2 separate regions of the Homo sapiens genome follow, and region 1 is linked to region 2. The links come from fine-mapping of genetic effects on gene expression. A gene starts in region 2. The other region holds a variant in brackets. All regions are shown on one strand. Distances are between the middles of the regions.

Region 1 (4,395 bases), 170 kb after region 2:
TCCAGCAATTTGCAGTAACCCCAGAGAAAATGTCTAACATGCTTTTCAGGGTTAGTAGCTAGGAGCCAAAGATAGTTAAGGAGTGAGGGCTTCTTTGTTGCCAAAGACTGAGCTGTTGAAGTTCTAGTCCTTGGGAAGTCAGCCAGGGAGAAAAGCAGGTGATTCCGGGAGGTTAATGGACTGAAGACACTGCAGAGGGTTAGAGATCATGGGAAAAGCTAAGTGTAGGTTTATTTTAAAAGAAGCAGCAGATAGGGTGAAAATATAAAAGGTTGTGATCTGAGAAAAGTGTCTAGATTTGAGGTCCTTGGGTTAAAATAATATGGGTTAAAGGCAAGAGGCGGTAAGGATGATGTCTGTCAGTTCCTGGTTAGGAAGTGAAAGTTCCTCTAGAAGAGGAAAGACAAGGTCCAAGGGTAAAGGCAGGATTTTGTATTTCACATCCTGATTATGGCAGAGAAAATGGTGGAGAAAAAAAAAATAAGCTAGGTGAAATCGTGTTTAAAAAACCAGAGGAATACCTCAAAAGTTGGTAAATAAATGCCATTCTTTTAGGGCCGGTCACGTGGCTCCCGCTTGTAATTCCAGCACTTTGGGAGGCCATGGCGGGCAGATCACGAGGCCTGAAGTTTGAGACCAGCCTAGTCAACTTAGTGAAACCCTGTCTCTACTAAAAATACCAACATTAGCCAGGCGTGGTGGCACACGCCTGTAGTCCCAGCTACTCGGGAGGCTGAGGCAGGAGAATCACTTGAACCTGAAAGGTGGAGGTTGTGGCGAGCCGAGATTGCACCACTGCACTCCAACCTGGGCAACAGAGCAGGACTCTGTCTCACATAAATAAATATAAATGCGATGCTTTTTCCTTCATGGCATTTATTATATGTAACAATTGTTTGTTTTTTAATCCCCACTTCCCTACTAAATTGAAGGCAGACTATATTTTATCTATTTTGTTCATACCAAGTTCCCAGCACAGTGATGGCTTATAAAGGAGACATGTCCAATAAATATTTGTTGCATGAATTAAAAGACAGAACCAAGGATGGGAAAGTGAACATATAATTTGATGCCACAGACTTAAAAAGATGTGAGGTCACTGAATAAAATAAATAGGAAATGTTCTGGCAATGGAACAAAGGAGCTTATCTCTTAATAAAAATAGAAAAACATAAAAATGTTCAAATCAATGATAATGAAAGAAATATAATTAATTCAAACATTTGCTTACCCTGCAGAAGGCAAGAAAGAAGAAGGTGCTTTCATTTTTCTGCGAGTAGCATGTGTGTATTACACTGCTTCAGTCAGAGAAATTAAAAGGTAGGATAACTTAAGTCTAAAATAATATATGCCAACTTTTTTTTTTTTTTTTTTTTTTTTTTTGAGGTAGAGTCTTGCTCCGTCACCCTGGGCTGGAGTACAGTGGTGTGATCTTGGCTCACTGCAACCTCCACCTCCCAGGTTCAAGCGATTCTCCTATCTCAGCCTCCTGAGCAGCTACGATTACAGGCACCCGCCACCATGCCAGGCTAATTTTTGTATTTTTGGTAGAGTCCGGGTTTCGCCATGTTGGCCAGGCTAGTCTCGAACTCCTGGCCTGAAGTGATCCGCCTGCCTTGGCCTCCCAAATTGCTGGGATTATAGGCGTGAACCACCACGCCCAAGCTTTACCAACATTTTCTTTTTAAAAATGTTCACGTTCAGGGGTACATGTGCAGGTTTGCTGTATAGGGAAGGATTGCTATCACAGGGATTAGATGTACAGATTATTTCCGTCATCCACGTAATAAGCATAGTGCCCTCTAGGCGATTTTTCAATCCTCACTCTCCTCCCGCCCTCCGCTCTCCAGGGGACCCTGGTGTCTGTGTTCCCATTGTAGTGTCCTACAGCAAAATTTTCTATTCTTCACATTTCTTGAAAGATCATTGTAAAATGGCAAGTATATTTTAAAATGGCAATGCTGTAAAAGCACTCACAGTGATTTCTTGGGTTACCACTCAGCTTCCCCACAAGGTCACTTTCATGAGATCTGGCTCTTGG[G/A]GTCAGAATGAATTGTAGGTTGGATACGCATCAGCCTGCCAAAAACAACCCCAAGTGTGCCAAGTATGGGAGCCAGCAACGTTACAGAAGGCATACGGTATGCCTGACACCTTTGGCTCTTGGCAAAATGAGCCAAGGGTATGACTTGACAACTTTTTTGGGTGAACAAGTTGTCCCTTTTGTATCAAATGTCATCAGCTCACTGATGTGTATTTGCTGATGTCAGCCAGAAAATGAAGCACTTGCAAAAAATGCAATTTTAAAGCAGTCATATTTGAATACTAACTTCCACTGATTCTCATTTGGGTTTGGAAGCAATGCACAATTGCCCTTAAAATAGAAAAAAAAAACTTATTCCTCGGAAGTGATGCTGTCCTTCTCCCCTCGTCGTTACCAATTTTTTCACTAAAATGAATATTGTCAACAATGAAGTAAAAGTGAAGCTGTCATTTGATATGTTTCTGAAATTTTAAAATATTGAATGGTTATTTTCAGACTAAATATGTTATCTTATTTTTTATATGTTTAAAGGTAGCAGGAAAAGTGACTCTTGTATTTATGACGGGAGAAAGAGGGGACAATTCAGAAACAGAGAGGGAGACCAATAGAGTCAAAAATGTCTCCAACAGTTACATAAGCACCAGACTGCCAAGAATTTTTACACTGAAGCCGGAGCTTGACTGGGAAGTAGAGGTACACATCACATGAGAACACAGGTGGTTGGGTCGGGGCTGCATGGTGCAGTTCAGGTCTTCAACAGGGTAGACTCTTCAGAAAATGTGGATTTTTCTTTTTTCCTTTTTTTAGTTTAGTGGAGCCTCGCTCTGTCGCCAGGCTGGAGTGCAATGGTGCGATCTCGGCTCACTGCAACCTCTGCCTCCCGGGTTCAAGCGATTCTCCTGACTCAGCCTCCCAAGTAGCTGGGATTACAGTCCCGCGCCACCATGCCCAGCTAATTTTTGTATTTTTAGTAGAGACAGCGTTTCACCATGTTGGCCAGGCTGGTCTCAAATCTCCTGACCTTATGATCCACCCGCCTCAGCCTCCCAAAGTGCTGGGATTACAGGTGTGAGCCACCTCGCCCAGCCCAGAAAATGTGGGTTTTATTTGATCTGGTGTATTTCTGTTTGTTTCAGAATAGATGTCCGGATAAACAGTCACCTGAGAATGAGGAAGGTGTGTGTTTTCAAACCTGCACATAATAAAAAGACTATTGATAAGATTATTAGAATGGAGATAGAAAACTAATTTTAAAATTAACATTATTTTGCCATTTAGAAATGAATAAAGTTATTTCTGATACCAGTTATTTGAAGAAATATCATCAGAGGACTTAATTTATATATCCAACTAAAAATGATGGCAGTGCTGCTGTTTCTAAGCTGTGTGTAAATACTCAGTTACAGTTTCTTAATTTGGTCTCAAATAGATTTTTTTTTTCAACTTGCGTGCTACAGGTTTATTTTTCTGTTGTATTTTCAGCAATGTTTTAAAACTCATTCTTTGAAATTCTAAAATTTGTCAATTAAGATTGGGTTTCGTAGTTCTTAACATCTTTTATCCTCTCTAAAATTAAGTCTACTTTGATGGTAATAATTAGGTTTACTGTGTTGATAAACTAAGGAAAGCATACAATTTAAAAAAGTGATTTTTTAGGCTGGGCGTGGTGGCTCACGCCCGTAATCCCAACACTTTGGGAGGCTGAGGTGGGCGGGTCACCTGAGGTTGGGAGTTCGAGACCAGCCTGACCAACATGGAGAAACCCCATCTCCACTAAAAATACAAAATTAGCTGGGCGTGGTGGTGGATGCCTGTAATCCCAGCTACTCAGGAGGCTGAGGCAGGAGAATCAGTTGAACCCAGGAGGCGGAGTTTGTGGTGAGCCAAGATCATGCCATTGCACTCCAGCCTGGGCAATAATAGCAAAACTCCATCTCAAAAAAAAAAAAAAAAAAAAAAAGTAAAAAAAAAAAGAAAATTATAAAGAAAAGAAACCCACCCACTGGGTTCGAGCAATTCTCCTGCCTCAGCCTCCCTAGTAGCTGGGATTACAGGCATGCGCCACCATGCCTGGCTAATTTTTTTTGTATTTTTAGTATAGATGGGGTTTCACCACATTGGCCAGGGTGGTCTCGAACTCCTGACCTCAAGTCATCCACCCACCTTGTCCTCCCAAAGTGCTGGTATTACAGACCTGAGCCACTGTGCCCGGACTGTTTTCTTTCATTTTCTGTTTTGGTTTACAAACCTCCACTTTAGTCTTCAAATACATTCATTTTATTAATTATGCTGACCATTGAATTTTTTTATGCTGGCAAGTATATTTTAATTTCCAAGGACATTTCATTGCCTCA
Region 2 (4,395 bases):
CTGCTGTAAACATGCATGTGCAAGTATATTTTTTGAATCATGACTTCTTTTCCTCTGGGTAGATACCCAGTAGTGGCATTGCTACATCAAATGGTAGTTCTACTTTTAGTCCTTTAAGGAATCTCCACACTGTTTTCCATAGTGGCTGTACTAGTTTACATTCCCACCAGCAGTGCAGAAGTGTTCCCTGATCACTGCATCCATGCCAACATCTGTTTTTTGATTCTTTGATTATGGTCATTCTTACAGGGGTAAGGTGGTATCACTTTGTGGTTTTGAGTTGCATTTCCCTGATCATTATTGATGTTGAGCATTTTCTCATATGTTTGTTGGCCATTTGTATATCTTCTTTTGAGAATTTTCTATTTGTGTCCGTAGCCCATAAAAGTGGCATTTTTAATACCAAAGTTTAGGAAAATCAATGATGCTTTATGGCTAAATCTTTAACTGTATCAAGACCCATTCTTTAAGCCTGGCGCAAATCAGTGCTATGGTGGAGATGATAGGTTTAAAATGTCTATGCTTATCTTTGAGGAGAAAAGTACTGTATCTCATGTAATTTAATATATCATAGTAAACTATAGAAGGCAGTTGAAGCCTATTATAGTAAATTTTTGCATGTGTATTTCAATATACCAAACTTTCAGTTTGTTGTTACAAAATAACATATAAATAGGTTTCTGGAGCTGGATGGGCACGGTGGCTCACACCTGTAATCCCAGCACTTTGGGAGGCCAAGGTGGGCGGATCATGAGGTCAGGAGTTTGCGACCAGCCTGGCCAACATGGCGAAACCCTGTCTCTACTAAAAAATACAAAAATTAGGCTGGATGCAGTGGCTCAAATCTGTAATCCCAGCACTTTGGGAGGCAGAGGCGGGCAGATCACCTGAGGTCAGGAGTTCGAGACCAGCCTGGGCAACGTGGTGAAACCCCATCTCTACTAAAAATACAAAAAAATTAGCCGGCTGTGGTGGCGTGCACCTGTAATCCCAGCTACTCGGGAGGCTGAGGCAGGAGAATGGATTGAACCCAGGAGGCGAAGGTTGCAGTGAGCCAAGATCGTGCCACTGTATTCCTGCCTGGGTGACAAGAGTGAAATTCTGTCTCAAAAAAAAAAAAAAAAAAATGCCTGGAAAACTCATTACAGAAGTTTCCACTGTAGTAAAATTTGTTGAAATAAGTTGCACTCAATCATGTAAAAATGTGGCTCCTTGGGACTATCTGAACGGAATGTTGTAAGTGAAACACCCTCACCATAGTCACTATCCTGTTATCAAGAATTCTGGATCTTAAGGAAGTGCTTGTTTTGTCAAAAATGTGACACTAAGACTTTTCACCCCTATAGAAAAACCTCAACCCTGGCCTGGCGTGGTGTCCCACCCCTGTGATCCCAGCACTTTGGGAGGCCGAGGCCGGTGGATTACTTGAGGTCAGGAGTTCAAGACCAGCCCGGGCAACATGGTGAAACCCCGTCTGCACTAAAAACACAAAAATTATCTGGGCTTGGTGGCCTGTGGCTGTAATCCCAGCTATTCGTGAGGCTGAGGCTAGAGAATCGCTTGAACCCAGGAGGCGGAGGTTGCAGTGAGCTGAGATCGCGCCATTGCACTCCAGCCTGGGCGACAGAGTGAGACTCCGTCTAAAACAACAACAAGCAACAACAACAACAAACTTCAATTATGTTTGGAAAGAAGTGCTAATTTAATTTGGCAAAGATGAAGACAGCAGTCATAAAGCAAAACATTCGGTCTCAGGTTGGGTGGATTCCCACCTAGTTGACGAGGCCAGCTGCAGATTCAGGTGGGATCACCTGATGATCTTTATCAATGCCATTTCTTTCTCTGGATCCTTATTACTGACATTAGCAAGGGCTTTCAGCTGCCCAGAAGATGTTCTTTGCAGACATTTGCTCTCCCGGGCTGCCAGCAGGCTTTACAAATTTAAAACTTTCAGTGTAGGAACCCAGCCTCCGTCGTCCTTCCCCTCCAAAGTTAAGAGATCTGCTCTAAGGGTTCCTGAGGGGTGGTCTGGGGCCATGGGAACAGGATCAAGGCCCCCTGAGCGCCGGGCCTGGCTTCTGTGGCTTCGCAAACTTTTCAGCCTGTGTGCCACGGCGACGCGCAGCGGCTGAGTCGGAGCCCACGCGGCGCGCGCCTCCCGCGAGGAACTTTTCGGCTTGTAGGCTGCTTGTCACTCTCGCTTTCCGACGCGCCTCCCCCTGGCTCGCGCTCCCGGAGTTCCCTCCCCTCCTGGCGAGGACCTTTCCCGGCGCCCGCGGCTCCGATCCCCGCCGCGCTGCGCCCGCTCTCCCGGCCCCGGCTGCCCCGCTGAGGGCTCCCCTCTCCCAGGCACCGCAGCCGCGCCCCCGCGTCCCGCCTCCCGAGCGGCTCGCTTCGCCCGATGCCCCGGCCCCGTCCCGCGCACTGAGCGCCTGGCAGCAGGGCGCCGAGTCCCGGGGCGCTGCGGGGCGCTGCGCCGAGAACGGCCGGGCCTGAGCCCTGGGCGGCCCCCAGAGCCGATCAGAGCGCGGGGAGGCGGGGGCGAGGAGGAGGGGACCCGCCGCCGGGGGCTGGCTGCTTCGCTCCGAGCCGACTTTTCGCCAATGGTCCAAAGGGACATGTCCAAGTCGCCTCCCACAGCGGCGGCGGCGGTGGCGCAGGAGATCCAGATGGAACTGCTAGAGAACGTGGCTCCCGCGGGGGCGCTCGGAGCCGCCGCACAGGTAGCGAGAGCGCGGCGCCTTCTCCTTCCTTTGTGAGCCGCCGGGCAGGGCACCGACCTCGGGTTCTCCCGGCGCCTCCACTGCAGGGATCTCTAGCCTCGCACCTCCTCCCCTCGTCGCCTGCCCACCCTCTGCTCCTCTCCTGGCGCCGGGGACCCTGCCCCTTTGCGCCTTTTCCTGGCTCTGCCTCGGCTTCCATTTTTCTCTGCTTCCGAAAAGCCAGTGGGGAAGGGCGGGGGAGACCTGCCAGTCCTCCCAGACTTCTCCCGGGTTGCTCCAGCTGGCCCTCCTCGCCCCTTCCCGGGAGAGGCACATGGAGAGACATGAATCAGGGGAGTGGACTGGACCTGCTGAAGATCGTGAGTCCGGGTGGGCGGGAGGGGGCCCGCTTCCCGCAGCGCTTTCTACGATGCCGACTCTCCTGGCCACGCTCCGAGCCGGGGTGGGCGTGGGTGTGAGGATGATGGGGTGCAGGTGGGCAGGAGGGGAGCGAATATGGGGGTGCCCTGCCGGATCCCCCCAGAGCTGCCCGGACCACGCTGCGCACCTGGGGCTGACAGCTCTCCAGTCCCCTCGGGCACTTGCCAAGGTTTGCCTGTCCCACCTCATGCCTTTCCCTTAAGAAGCGAGTGAGCTGGGGACAAGAAAGTTTTTATTTTTCCGTCTCCCCTGAAATGTTAGCCATTTCAGGGATCTCCAGGATCCCCTTTCTCTCCGTTGAGTGTTTGCGGTTTCTGGAAAAAGTCAGCTTCGCTGCAGGTTGTTGTGAAATTGGAGATGTCAGTTGTAGGCGCTGGGCAATGACAAGGTGGTTTTTACGTTTTTACGTAAGGCTTCAGCAGGTACAGTTTGGGTTACAGACACCTCCAGGTCTCAGCGATGAGGAGTCGCTCAACTTTTCTCCCGGCAGGGAAATGACTTCAGACTCCTAGCTGCGGGCTGGCTGTTGGCTGGCCAGTGATGTGAAGAGGTCTTGGTTACATTTCAGGCAGCATTCTGGAGAAATGTCTGTTTGCTTAACTGTGTTGGCTTGTTGATTTCAAGCCTACATTTGCCAGATTTTAATTTGCGGTAAGATATATATGTGTGTGTATATATACTTATATATTAATACGTAGACACACATACACACACTAGAGAGCATGTTAGAGTATCATTTGCTGTAGTAGTGGGGGCAGGAGTGTGACAAGCTAATAAAGGTGGCAAATGTTTTCTTGCTGTTGTTTTGATAGGTGGAACATGAGTGCTCTAGATATTTTGATATTGTAATCATGGCAGTTCCAAGTGGCATAGTAGTCTAGCTTTATTGAACTTTCTTTTACCATTGGGAAATTAATGTGCTAACTTAAAACACATAATTCACTTTGACTTGAGAAGGGGAAGAATGTGGACACCAAGGACTTGTGTAATCAGAAATCTATTTCTTTTGTAGTGGTAAAACAGCTAGATTTTGGTCCACCCTGGGCTGTTTGCTTCACAAGCCGAGTAGGGACATGTAATGAACCAGCTACATTCCCATCTGGCCTCTGCCAGAGGATCTGAATTTTAACCAATAGAGTTTGCATTTGTTCTAGACTCCTGATTTTTATCTAGATGCTTGCCAGGTTAGACAGAATGAAAAATGTACCCGGAGACCTCGGTTATTCTAGGATGAAGGTCTTGAATACTATCA

Which allele goes with the higher level. Alleles are on the strand shown, and positions count from the first base shown. SD is a standard deviation of normalised expression in the study named.
For the expression in skeletal muscle of the gene that starts at base 2,291 in region 2, allele A in region 1 goes with a higher level than allele G (large effect, 0.84 SD a copy in GTEx).

Evidence for each region.
Region 1: its variant is fine-mapped to the expression of CACNB2 in skeletal muscle (GTEx, PIP above 0.99). The same link has a PIP of 0.9 or more in thyroid.

What each region holds. Positions count from the first base shown.
Region 1 is chr10:18,306,628-18,311,022 of GRCh38, forward strand. All of the region lies in intron 2 of CACNB2 (calcium voltage-gated channel auxiliary subunit beta 2), which reads left to right. Among named protein-coding and RNA genes, the nearest start is that of CACNB2-AS2, 47 kb to the left of the region's middle. The variant G/A (reference allele first, on the strand shown) is at 2,042.
Region 2 is chr10:18,138,134-18,142,528 of GRCh38, forward strand. CACNB2 (calcium voltage-gated channel auxiliary subunit beta 2) reads left to right here and starts at 2,291. Exons shown (of 14, transcript NM_201596.3): 1 at 2,291-2,723. The coding sequence starts at 2,604.